Linked DNA regions of Homo sapiens: all the other regions are linked to region 2. Evidence: fine-mapped expression QTL. A gene starts in region 2. Each other region holds a variant in brackets. All regions are shown on one strand. Distances are from middle to middle.

Evidence for each region.
Region 1: its variant is fine-mapped to the expression of TMEM121B in whole blood (INTERVAL, PIP above 0.99).
Region 3: its variant is fine-mapped to the expression of TMEM121B in whole blood (INTERVAL, PIP 0.93).

What each region holds. Positions count from the first base shown.
Region 1 is chr22:17,186,758-17,190,875 of GRCh38, reverse strand. It overlaps ADA2 (adenosine deaminase 2), which reads left to right. Exons shown (of 10, transcript NM_001282225.2): 6 at 844-934; 7 at 2,429-2,537. Among named protein-coding and RNA genes, the nearest start is that of HDHD5-AS1, 29 kb to the right of the region's middle. RefSeq lists enhancers at 541-1,041, 1,930-2,429, 2,430-2,931. The variant A/G (reference allele first, on the strand shown) is at 2,269.
Region 2 is chr22:17,118,984-17,123,101 of GRCh38, reverse strand. It overlaps TMEM121B (transmembrane protein 121B), which reads left to right and starts at 1,742. Exons shown (of 1, transcript NM_031890.4): 1 at 1,742-4,118. The coding sequence starts at 1,975. The coding sequence ends at 3,711. LINC01664 (long intergenic non-protein coding RNA 1664) reads right to left here and starts at 1,507. Exons shown (of 4, transcript NR_103793.1): 1 at 1,063-1,507. RefSeq lists an enhancer at 784-1,315 and a silencer at 1,901-2,030.
Region 3 is chr22:17,170,475-17,174,592 of GRCh38, reverse strand. No RefSeq gene overlaps it. Among named protein-coding and RNA genes, the nearest start is that of HDHD5-AS1, 13 kb to the right of the region's middle. RefSeq lists a silencer at 2,647-3,076 and an enhancer at 2,927-3,428. The variant G/A (reference allele first, on the strand shown) is at 2,445.

The DNA of each region.
Region 1 (4,118 bases), 68 kb before region 2:
CTGGAGGAGCTAAGCTCTGGCTTTGTGCCGGTCCCCCTAGGAGGGAGCTTGCAGGATGGGCCCACGTTCTGCTCAGAGGCTCCCTGGTGCCAGGTGCCCCTTCCCAGGGCCAGTGGCAGGAGGGTGTGAGGGCTGAGCTGAGTGCATCAGTGCCCCCAGGTTTGCCTAGGCTCTGGGGAGAGGCCATGGGTGGGGCAGGCCAGGAAGGCTTTATCCCCACAGAGCCGAGGATTGGAGCAGGAGAGCCAGTGGCAGGGCAAAGACCTTGAGCCTGTCGTGGGCTTGCGCCAGACCCTGTGTTTTGGGGCTTTTGTTGTCATGCTGCCTGCCTTGCCCCTGTAGGGTTCTGCAGTACCCAGGATCTTGCTGACTTAATCAGCAAGAGGCCATATGGTTACTGGGTCCAGCCGACCCATCAGGGACTTGGGTGACCTGTGGCCCTTTGCAGGTGTGCAGTGGACAGAGAGCTGCCCCTGAGCTGCATCCATGTCTACACCCCCGACAGAGATGCAGGGAGAGCTGGGAACAAGGCCACCTGGCCTCCTCTAAACGCAGACAAATAAAACTGTTCCCGTGGGTCCTCTGACCCCATCTACTTTTCAGAGACTACAGGTGCCCCCAGAGCCAGCAAGGGTCTTTGATAAGAATGGATTTGGGCTACATATCTCTCAGGGATCACAATGGCCTGGTCAGGGTGGGGTCAGGAGGGCAGGGGTGCCTCAGGTTTGGGAAACGGGACCTGCACACTTGGGGCTGGCCCAGCCCTGCACGGAGGGTGTGCTCTGGGGTTTGTGCTCTGTCGGTGCTGGGCACTGTCTCCTGGCTTCTCTGTCTGTCTCACAGATCCAAAGATGTGGCTGTCATCGCAGAATCCATCCGAATGGCCATGGGGCTCCGAATCAAGTTCCCCACGGTGGTGGCAGGGTTTGACCTGGTAACCCATGCTGTGAACAGAAGGGCTGCCTGTTAAGGGGGCATGCGAGGATGCCTGTCTGGGTGGAGCGGCAACTCCCTGGGAAGGGAGCGCAATGTGCCTGTTGGTACCCTGACATCCCAGGGCAGGCTCAGGCTGCTGACACAGCAGGGCTGCTCAGAGCTCAGCGCTGACCCTCTTCAGAGGCCTACAGGGGACGGCTGTCACTGGAGAAGGGAGAGCAGACAGCCAGTTCTAACAAGCTAACAAGGAAAGTTCCAGAATAAGGATGGCATTCAGGGAGTTTGGACCACAGTTATGGGCTCATTCCCCATGGCCCTGCCTGTGCCCTTTTTTCTATCCCACACTGCTCACCTAGGTGTGGGTCTTAAAACCCTCACCAGCCCCTGTAGCACGCGGGGTGGGGACTGGGGGGTAATGTCTGGAAACAGAGTCCAGGATGGAGCCAGGCCTTTGCAAATCCTCAAGGTAGTGATATTTGTCCCTCCCTCTCCAGCCATCATGCCTGGCCACACCAGTTTTTGAAGCTACACATTCATAGGTGTTGTCATTGTCCCACACCTCCCCACCAAATCGAAGCACAACCAGGACATTTCTTAGGTGACAGCTCGGCAATCTCATAAAGAATCTAGGCCGGGTGCAGTGGCTCATGCCCTCAGCACTTTGGGAGGGCGAGACAGGTGGATCACCTGAGGTCTGAAGTTCAAGACCAGCCTGGCCAACATGGAGAAACCGCATCTCTACTAAAAACACAAAAATTAGCCAGCCTTGGTGGCCTGCACCTGTAATCCCAGCTACTTGGGAGGCTGAGGCAGAATCACTTGAACTCAGGAGGCAGAGGTTGCAGTGAGCTGAGATTGCACCATTGCACTCCAGCCTGGGCGACAGAGCAAGACTCCATCTCAAAAAAAAAAAAAAAAAAGAATCTAGATTAGTCCAGGGCAGTGGCTCACTCCTGTAATCCCAGCACCTTGGGGGGCCAAGGTGGGAGGGTCACCTGAGTCCAGGAGTTCTAGACCAGCCTGAGCAAATCGGTGAGACCCCGTCTTTACAAAATATATATATATATATATTTTTTGCTCTTGGCCAGGCTGTAGTGCATTGGTGTGATCTCAGCTCACTGCAAGTTCTGCCTCCTGGGTTCATGCCATTCTCCTGCCTCAGCCTCCCAAGTAGCTGGGACTACAGGCACCCGCTACCACACCTGGATAATTTTTTGTATTTTTAGTAGAGATGGGGTTTCACTGTGTTAGCCAGGATGGTCTCGATCTCCTGACTTCGTGATCTGCCTGCCTCGGCCTCCCAAAGTGCTGGGATTACAGGTGTGAGCCACC[A/G]CGCCTGGCCTGCTCCTGGTCATTCTTAAAAGGCTGTGTGACAAAGGTCCCGGCAGTGGTGGCAGGGTACAAGGAAGGGTGTGCACAGGCTCCAGGGCGCGCCATCAGCAAGTGAGGCATGCGCCCTGCAGACACCTCCCTGTCCCTCTCTGTCCTGCAGGTGGGGCATGAGGACACTGGCCACTCCTTGCATGACTACAAGGAAGCTCTGATGATCCCCGCCAAGGATGGCGTTAAGCTGCCTTACTTCTTCCACGCCGGAGAAACAGGTGAGCCTGCGGGATGCGAGCAGAGGCAGCGGAGGTGGTCAATGGGAGAGCTCCTGGCCACAGGCCCATGCCTCAGGGTTAGAGCCTACAGGCGTTTCCAGAGCCCTTTCCTGTGCTCTATCTCACTTAATCCTGACAACAGCCCCATGGAGAAGGAATAACAAGGATAATAGAATCAGCCACTTTACATGTATTATTTCTAGTTTCTCTTTCTTCTTTCCTTCCTGTTTTCTTTTCTTCTTCTTCTTTTTTTTTCTTTTTTTTACGGAGTCTCCCTCTGTCGCCCAGCTCACTGCAACCTCGGCTTCCCAGGTTCAAGAGAGTCTCCTGCCTCAGCCTTCCAAGTAGCTGGTACTACAGGCACCTGCCACCACGCCTGGCTAATTTTTTGTATTTTTAGTAGAGACGGGGTTTCACCGTGTTAGCCAGGATGGTCTTGATCTCCTGACCTCATGATCTGCCCTCCTCGGCCTCCCAAAGTGCTGGAATTACAAGGGTGAGCCACTGCGCCTGGCCTTTTCTAATTGATTTCTGATTGTTTCCCCAGTTTTTAATCTCCATTTGATAGATGAAGAGCCCAAGGCTCCAAACACAGTGGTCCAGGGTTAAAGAGCTGGTGCGCAGTGGAGTCTGAATTTGAATCCTTCTTCTTCTTCTTTTTTTTTTTTTTTTTAATTTTTCGTGGTAGGGGCATAATCCTGCAAACTCACATCATCCTACTTTGGCTATAAAAATTCGTTTTAGGCTGGGCACAGGCACAGTGGCTCATGCCTGTAATCCTAGCACTTTGGAGGCTGATGTGGGTGGATCTCTTTAAACCCAGGAGTTTGAGGCCAGCCAGGGCAACATGGCAAAACTTTGTCTCTACAAAAAAATACAAAAATTAGCCAGGCATGATGGTACACACCTGTGGTCCCACCTACTTAGAGGCTGAGGTGGGAGGATTGCCTGAGCCCAGGCTCACTGAACTCCAGCCTGGGTGACAGAGCTAGACCCTGTCTCAAAAAAAAAAGTGTTTTAGCCAGGTACAGTGGCTCACATCTGTAATTCTAGCACTTAGGGAGGCAGAGGCAGGAGGATCACTTGAGCCCAGGAGTTTGAGACCAGTCTGGGCAACATAGTAAGATTCCATTCTACACAAAAAGGAAAACAAATTTTTTTTTTTTTTTTTTGAGATGGAGTCTCGCTCTGTGGCCCAGGCTGGAGTGCAGTGGTATGATCTCGGCTCACTTGCAAGCTCGGCTTCCTGGGTTCATGCCATTCTCCTGCCTCAGCCTCCCAAGTAGCTGGGACTACAGGTGCCCGCCACCACGCCCGGCTAATTTTTTGTATTTTTAGTAGAGACGAGGTTTCACTGTGTTAGCCAGGATGGTCTCGATCGCCTGACCTTGTGATCCACCCGTCTAGGCCTCCCAAAGTGCTGGGATTACAGGTGTGAGCCACTGCACCTGGTCAATTTTTTTGTTTTTTGAGATGGAGTCTCACTCTGTCACCCAGGCTGGAGTGCAGTGGTGCGATCTTGGCTCACTGCAACCTCTGCCTCCCGGGTTCAAGTGATTCTTCTGCCTCAGCCTCTGGAGA
Region 2 (4,118 bases):
GCCTCTGCCTCCCAAATTGCTGGGATTATCACCATGCCCGGCTAGTTTTGTACTTTTAGTGGAGATGGGGTTTCTCCATGTTGGTCAGGCTGGTCTCAAACTCCCGACCTCAGGTGATCCGCCCGCCTCGGCCTCCCAAAGTGCTGGGATTACAGGCGTGAGCCACCGCGCCCGGCTGGGGTGGGGTCCTGTTTACAGATCAACATTCTGAGGTGAAATATTCAGGCTAAGACCACAAAGGTGTTAAGTGGCACAGGTGGGATGGCGGCCCCAGAGCTCCTGCCCTCACCACCATGCCAGCTTTCCAAAAGTGGTGTGTGTGGGGGAGGTGGAGATGGTGCAGGTTCTAAATTGTATATTTACCAGGGATTGGCTGTGCAGACTGACCTCCACGGAACTGGAAAAGGCAGGTTTGGCTGAAACGGACTCTTATTTAAGAGGCAGATTTAGGGGCGAGGCCTGACTAACCCCTGCGGCTCCACTGCATACAGCTCCCTCACACTGCATGGTGTTATCACGCTGCAAGCTGTTACCTAGGGGAGATGAGCCCGCAGCAGCAGCTTCAAAGGTCATGAAATCAGGGAGCCCACAGGCCCCACAAGGGTGCAGAGGCCAATAGGGCAGGCAAGCTTTCTGCCTTGTTTTCATGGGGCTGGGAATGGGATGTTTCCATTATTGGTGAACCTCAGATTGTTTTTGAGCCCCAACTGCTCTAGTCATTTCCTTCTCCCTTAAACCCCTAAAGGCAGCACTCTACCTTCTGCCTTCCAGAGTTGCTGCATCGACATCCATCCCCAGCCTTGGATGAGTCCTGGGGTGAGCTGGTGTGCTCTCTCCTGAGACTGTCTACGCAGGGCCACTGACTGCATTCCTTCCTTGGTGTCTCTGTCTACTGTGGTGGGCTGTAACCCTCACCATCATCCCTTTGGAGCCTTTGTTTTCATCCAGGTGCCCACACCTCTAAATGCCCCTTTATTTTACTCTCTGCTAGACACATCTTCCTATTACGTCCCATTCTGCTTTAAAAACCTTTGAGAAGCCCGCTGGGCGGATGCCACTTGCCCAATCTCGTTCCCTCGTCTCTCCTCCCAGGCAGGTGTTTTCAGGGAACTTCTCCATCCGCTGGAATCGGGTCGTCCCTGAGATGGCTCGCGACCCCAGGGCTGGGTACATGGATATTTAGGACTATAGGTCTGGGGCTGCTGCCCGAGCCCTTTTTGCCAACATGGCCTGACTCCTCCACTGGTTTTTAGTGCCTTAGGGAGAGGCGGATGGCCCCATGGGAAGGGCGCTGGACGGAGGGTGGAGGCGAAGCTGCCCACTGCCTGCCTCAGAGCTGAGAAGGCCAGGTGCAAAGCCCGCCCTGTAGCTTGAGCCCATCGCTTGGGGGCACCGAAGCCATCTAGGTACTAACGCCCTGCGGTACAGCCGGTGGGATTCCCAGCGACTTCCTTAGGAGTCCGCGCTCCATGGGAGTCCCCCCGCACCGGGTCGCCTCGCCCTGGCGGCTGCCCGCGCCTCCTCCCGCTTCCTCCAGGCCACAGGGCTCCCGACCCGACTGTGACGCACTGCACCCCCGCCCCTTCTCTTCCCGTTGATCCAGCGCGCCGCGCTTTCTCCTCCTCTGGTCTCGCTGCTTCCTCTCCCCCTCGAATCCAGTCCTGGTTTCCCCGCCGCCAGCCTCCCTCCCTCCCGGCGGGACTCGCTCCCCGCCCCGCCCCGCCCCGCCCCCGCCTCGCCTGTCTTCACCGCGGTCCGCTCGGTTCACCGCCTGCCCCCTCTCCCTGCCGCCCGGCCCGGCTCGCCCAGTCCAGTGGCTCCAGTCCGGATCTCGCCGCCGCCCGGCCCAGGTGCGAGTCCCCACTGCTGGGGAGGCGGCGGGCCCCGGCTCCCCTCGGCCGCCTAGCCCGCCTCGCCCGCCCGGGGTTGGCGGGGAGGGAACAGCTGGGCGGCCCCAGAGCCCCTCGGAGGACAATGCGCCCGGCGCTCGGCCACCCTCGCTCGGTCTCCTCCGCGTCCGGTTCCTTCCCGCCGCCCCCGGCAGCCGCCCGGCTGCAGCCCCTCTTCCTCCGCGGGGGCTCCTTCCGCGGCCGGAGAGGCTCCGGCGACAGCAGCACCAGCACCAGCACCAGCCGCGGGGGAGGCGGCGGCAGACGCGGCGGGGGCGGCGGCTCCCCGAGCAGCAGCACGGGCGCCGAGCGCGAGGACGACGACGAGAGCCTCAGCGTCAGCAAGCCGCTGGTGCCCAACGCCGCGCTCCTGGGGCCGCCGGCTCAGGTGGGCGCCCCCGCCGGCCCCGCGCCTGTCGCCTTCTCCTCCTCAGCGGCCACCTCCTCCTCCACCTCCACGCCCACCTCCTCCTGCAGCATGACAGCCGCGGACTTCGGCGGGGGCGCCGCGGCCGGGGCCGTCGGGGGCCCCGGGAGCCGCTCGGCGGGGGGCGCGGGCGGCACCGGGACCGGCAGCGGCGCCTCCTGCTGCCCGTGTTGCTGCTGCTGCGGCTGCCCAGACCGCCCCGGCCGCAGAGGTCGGCGCCGCGGCTGCGCCCCCAGTCCCAGGTGCCGCTGGGGCTACCAGGCGCTGTCCGTGGTGCTGCTGCTGGCGCAGGGCGGCCTGCTGGACCTGTACCTCATCGCCGTCACCGACCTGTACTGGTGCTCCTGGATCGCCACTGACCTGGTGGTGGTGGTGGGCTGGGCCATCTTCTTCGCCAAGAACAGCCGGGGCCGTCGGGGCGGCGCAGCCAGCGGCGCGCACAACCACCACCTGCACCACCACCACGCCGCGCCGCCCCTGCATCTGCCCGCCCCCTCGGCCGCTACCGCTGGGGCCAAGGCACGCGGAGCCCGCGGGGGCGCCGGCGGCGCGGGGGGCGGCCTGGGGGCGGCCGCGGCAGCGGGCGAGTTCGCCTTCGCCTACCTGGCCTGGCTTATCTACTCCATCGCCTTCACTCCCAAGGTGGTGCTGATCCTGGGCACGTCCATCCTAGACCTCATCGAGCTACGCGCGCCCTTCGGCACCACGGGCTTCCGTCTCACCATGGCGCTGTCGGTGCCCCTGCTCTACAGCTTGGTGCGGGCCATCAGCGAGGCGGGCGCGCCCCCGGGATCGGCAGGACCCCTGCTGCTGCAGCCCCAGCGGCACCGCGCGGCCGGATGCTTCCTGGGCACGTGCTTGGACCTGCTCGACAGCTTCACGCTGGTGGAGCTGATGCTGGAGGGCCGCGTGCCGCTGCCCGCGCACCTGCGCTACCTGCTTATCGCCGTCTACTTCCTCACCCTCGCCTCGCCGGTGCTCTGGCTCTACGAGCTCAACGCCGCGGCCGCAGCGGCTGCATCCTGGGGCCAGGCCTCCGGGCCTGGCAGCTGCAGCCGCCTTCTGCGCCTGCTGGGCGGCTGCCTGGTGGACGTGCCCTTGCTGGCGCTGCGCTGCCTCCTGGTGGTCAGCTACCAGCAGCCCCTCTCCATCTTCATGCTCAAGAACCTCTTCTTCCTCGGCTGCCGGGGCCTGGAGGCCCTGGAGGGCTGCTGGGACCGGGGCAATCGGGCCTCCCCGAGTCGGGCCAGAGGGGGCTACGGTGCTCCGCCCTCCGCCCCTCCACCACCTCCGCCACCACCTCAGGGAGGCTCCCAGCTGGGCCACTGCATCTCGGAGAACGAGGGGGGTGCTCATGGCTATGTCAACACCCTGGCTGTGGCCTCTCAGAATTGAGGGTGAAGGGCACGGGTCCTTGTTTTTGGGTTGAGAGTCCCCAACCCCCTTGTCTTCTACCTTCTGTCACCTAGATTTGATCAGGGTCTATTTGGAAGAGGTAACCCTTTTCAGGGCTAAGGGCCAGGGTGTTCTTCTGCACCCTGGGGTGAGGACGGCTTGGAGGGAGACCAGCAGTTAACGGTGAGGGAGGTAGGTGCACTTACCCTCTCCTCTCTTCTCCTATCCTACCCCAATCCTGACCTCCAAGGGGCTGGTACCTCTGCTTCTTGCTTTGCCCACCTCCACTCTAATTCCCATCCATTAGGAGGAGAGGGGTGCTGGGCCTTGGACCTTCTCCCTTGCTTAGAAGTGCCAGCCTCTTTTAGGCTGTGGTTAGTGGCCATTGTCCCATGCCTTGAAATTGA
Region 3 (4,118 bases), 51 kb before region 2:
AAGTGCTGGGATTATAGGTGTGAACCACTGCATCTGGCCATTCTTCCTTACGCAATAAAATGTTCTACCTTCATTTTGTACTTTCCCTGTGTCATGCCTGAGCTCAGCCATTTCTCCAGGGAGCTCTGTTCCTTTCAGTAGAGAATAATATTTAGTAGCCCTGATCTAGGCACTAGATGTGCTCATTGTTACTGGAGTGTGTGTGTGTGTGTGTGTGTGTGTGTGTAGACACAGAAATACAATTTATGCATATTAAAATGGGAATATTATGGCCAGGCATGGTAGCTCATCCCTGCAATCCTAGCACTTTGAGAGGCTGAGGCGGGTGGATCACTTGAGGTCAAGAGTTCGAAACCAGCCTGGCCAACATGGTGAAACCCCGTCCCTACTAAAAATAAAAAAAATTAGCCAGACATGGTGGTGGGCACCTGTAATCCCAGCTACTCAAGAGGCTGAGGCAGGAGAATCGCTTAAACACAGGAGGCGGAGGTTGCAGTGAGCCAAGATCATGCCACTGCACTCCAGCCTGGGCGAGACTCTGTCTCAAAAACAAACAAACAAGCATCCAAAACAAAACAAATAAAAAAAATGGGCAGGAAGAGGGAAAGAGTTGAAAAAAGAAGAGAAAACGATGGAATTGTTAGACTGGAAGTGGCCACTGGAATGGAAAGAGTTGAAAAAAGAAGAGAAAACGATGGAATTGTTAGACTGGAAGTGGCCACTGGAATGGAAAGAGTTGAAAAAAGAAGAGAAAACGGTGGAATTGTTAGACTGGAAGTGGCCACTGGAATGGAGGGCTCGGCTACCTTAGCAGTGCTCCCGAAGCTGCCATTTCAGAGGAAATGTGTGTTAGTCAGATTTTATTCTTTTTTCCTTAAGAAGACCCTTCAAATATGTATAAACCTCAGGACTGCCCCAAAATCTGGATCTGCGCCTGCTCTAGATCAGCTCTTCATTTGGAAGGAGGAAAGCGAGGTGGAGGTGTGTTCGTTTGAAAAGACTAGCTGAAAAGAGAAAACTTACAGGAGCCTCAGCTTGTGAGGGACCTTGAAAGACTATGCAACCAGCCTCACCTTCAGGAAGAGCAGCCCGAGACTTCCTCAGGAAGATGTCCCTGTTTCTTTTTATTTTCTTTTTTTTTGAGACTGAGTCTCACTCTGTCGCCCAGGCTGGAGTGTAGTAGCATGATCTCGGCTCACTGCAACCTCCACCATCCCAGTTCAAGTGATTCTCCTGCCTCAGCCTCCCTAGTAGCTGGGATTACAGGCACGCGCCATCACACCTGGCTAATTTTTGTATTTTTAGTAAAGTCGGGGCTTCACCATGTTGGCCAGGCTGATCTCGACCTCCTGACCTCAAGTGATCTGGCTGCCTCGGCCTCCCAAAGTGCTGGGATTACAGCCGTGAGCCACCGCACCCGGCGCCTGTTCCATTCTTAAAGCTCACCAGAACGCGATTCTGTAAACTGCTTCAGCCACCCATTCCGGAATCCCAAATGACGCCTTCCCATGGTCAGGATTTCAATGAGTGGTGCCATCCTTGGCTCTCACAGGAACTGATCCCTTGGGGAGGACTGTATGAAAATGCATCTGTAAGCTCAGATGAAGTCAGCATGCTAGGGTTGGAAATATTATTTTCACATACATAGTCTAGGTTACTTAATTTATTGTTTTGAGACAGGGTCTCACTGCCCAGCCTGGAGGGCAGTGCTGTGATCATAGCTCACTATAATCTTGAACTCCTGGGCTCAAGGGACCCTCCCGCCTCAGCCTGCCTCTCCAGTAGTTGGGACGACAGACGCGCACCACCACGCCCGGCTGTTTAATAGAGATGGGGGTCTCCTTTTGTTGCCCAGGATAGTATTGAACTCATGGCCTCACGTGATTCTCCTGCCTGTATCTCCCAAGGCACTGGGATTACAGGCCAGAGCCACCTTGCCAGGCCAGTATGTTACTTTAAATAGCAGTCATCCTAAAAATAGCTTACCCTCCTCTGTCCTTCCCTGCCTGGAAAGGGTGTAAAAATAACATTTGGGGGCTGTAAATGCTGTCTAGATCTCTGGAGCTAGGTAGGTGCAGAGGTGTGATTTGGGTTTGGCTGTGCTCCGAAAAAACCGGGGCCGAGCTGCTGGTTTTGAATTTGTCCAGGCTTTTTAGCCAATAGCCTCTTCCTCCGCCGGGAAGGGGTGGGACCCAGCCTTCCAAAACACCTTTGCTGAGGAACCGTGCAAAGACCTTGGATGAGGGCCCCAGCTCAGCCAGGCCTCCCTGAAGCGAAGCCAGCCCGGGGTGGGGACTGGTGGAGGGACTAGAGTTTCTTAGATTCACAGAATAGCAGAGCTGGGAGAGGCCTAAAGACCATCTTATCTACGCGTTTGTGTTTCTGATGACTGATTAAGGCCCAGAGAGGGTCAGTAACTCTTCCAGGTCGCACAGTGGGTGACA[G/A]TAGGTATGTGCTCGTCCTGGGACACAGAGCTGTTTTCTTCGCTTGTCTGGAGTGGGTTTCGGGGGTCGGCACTTGCCTCCCAGTGAGCTCCCGGCGCCTGCCAGTCCTGGCTGAGTGGGATCGGTCGGCCTCCACCCCTAATCTCCCCCGCTGCAGAGCCAAAGCACACCGGCCTCCAGGGGGCGCCGCCTCCGGGACGCGCCGACTCTCCCGAGCCCTGCTCTCTCTGGCCGGGGTCAGCCCCGGAAACAGCTTCAGTTTCCTGTCCCTTCCTCCCTGGGAGCAAGGATGTAGGCGCCCAGACCCCGCCCGCGGGCTCCCTTCGTCCGGCGTCCCTAGCGGCCCGCCCGGTCCCGCCGCCCCGCGGCTTGCGGATGGCTGCGGCCCCCCGGGCCCCGGGTGGCTGCGGTGGCGGGGAAACGGCAGAACGCAGGCGGCGATTCGCTGGGGACGGCGGCCGGAGGGAGGCGATGGCCCCAGGCTCGGCGCACCTGTGGAACTGCGCGGGCGGCGCGGCGCTGCTGCCCCCTGCCGGCCGCGCCCGGGCCCACTCCCGTGTCCACCCCGGCCCGGGTGCCCTCGGAGTCCCTCGCGTCACTGTGGGCAGCGCCAAGCTACGGCTTCCCATGGCAGAGCGGGGTGGGGCCGCGGGACGGCACAGAGCTCCCCTGCCGCGAATACGCCGGTTTAGTTGCTTCCCACAGATCACACATGGTCTCGCCTGTCCGCAGGGTCCCCTCCCGGCCTCAAGCCCCTGCCAGGCAGCATCGGCCGCTGGTGACCTTGGGTCATCCTGGCCTCTATGCATTTAGAGTAGACGCCGGGTGGTGGCGGCGCCTGTAGTCCCGCATTCTGGGAGGCCCAGGCGGGGCGCTAGAGCCCAGGAGTTCTAGACCAGCCTGGGGAAAACAGCGAGACTCTGTCTCTTCAAAACAAAACAAAAACAAACAAACAAAAAAGGGTAGAGCCCATAGTACAGGATGAGAGAGTAGTGCCGTAATGAATTTTAAATTTTAATTACATTTAAAATTAAAATGAATCTATATACAATCACATTTCAAAAATTCAAAAAGTATGAAAAGGAACACATTCGAAAGGCTTCTATCCACCTCTGTTTTCCACTGTCCTCTTTCCCATCCCACCCATTCTCCCACCAGGCTTAGTTTCTTGTGTTTCTTTATGCAAAATAAACAAAAGCAAATATATATATTTTTTCCTGCTCTCATATAAAAGGCAGCACAGTATCCACACTGTTCTGAACTCTTTTTTTTTTTTTTTGAGACAGGGTCTCACTCTGTTCCCCAGACTGGAGTGCAGTGGCACAATCTCAACTCACTGCAGCCTCCACCTCCTGGGTTCAGGCTATTCTCCTGCCTCATCTGGACCACAGGCGCACACCACCATGCCCGGCTAATTTTGTATTATTATTTTTTTCGAGATGGAGTCTTGCTCTGTCGCCCACAGATGGAGTGCAATGGTGCGATCTCGGCTCACTGCAACCCCTGCCTCCCGGGTTCAAGCAATTATCCTGCCTCAGCCCCCCGAGTAGCTGGGATTACAGGTGTGCGCCACCACACCTGGCTAATTTTTGTATTTTTAGTAGGGACGGGGTTTCACCATGTTGACTAGGCTGGTCTTGAACTCCTGACCTCATGATCTGCCCACCTCGGCCT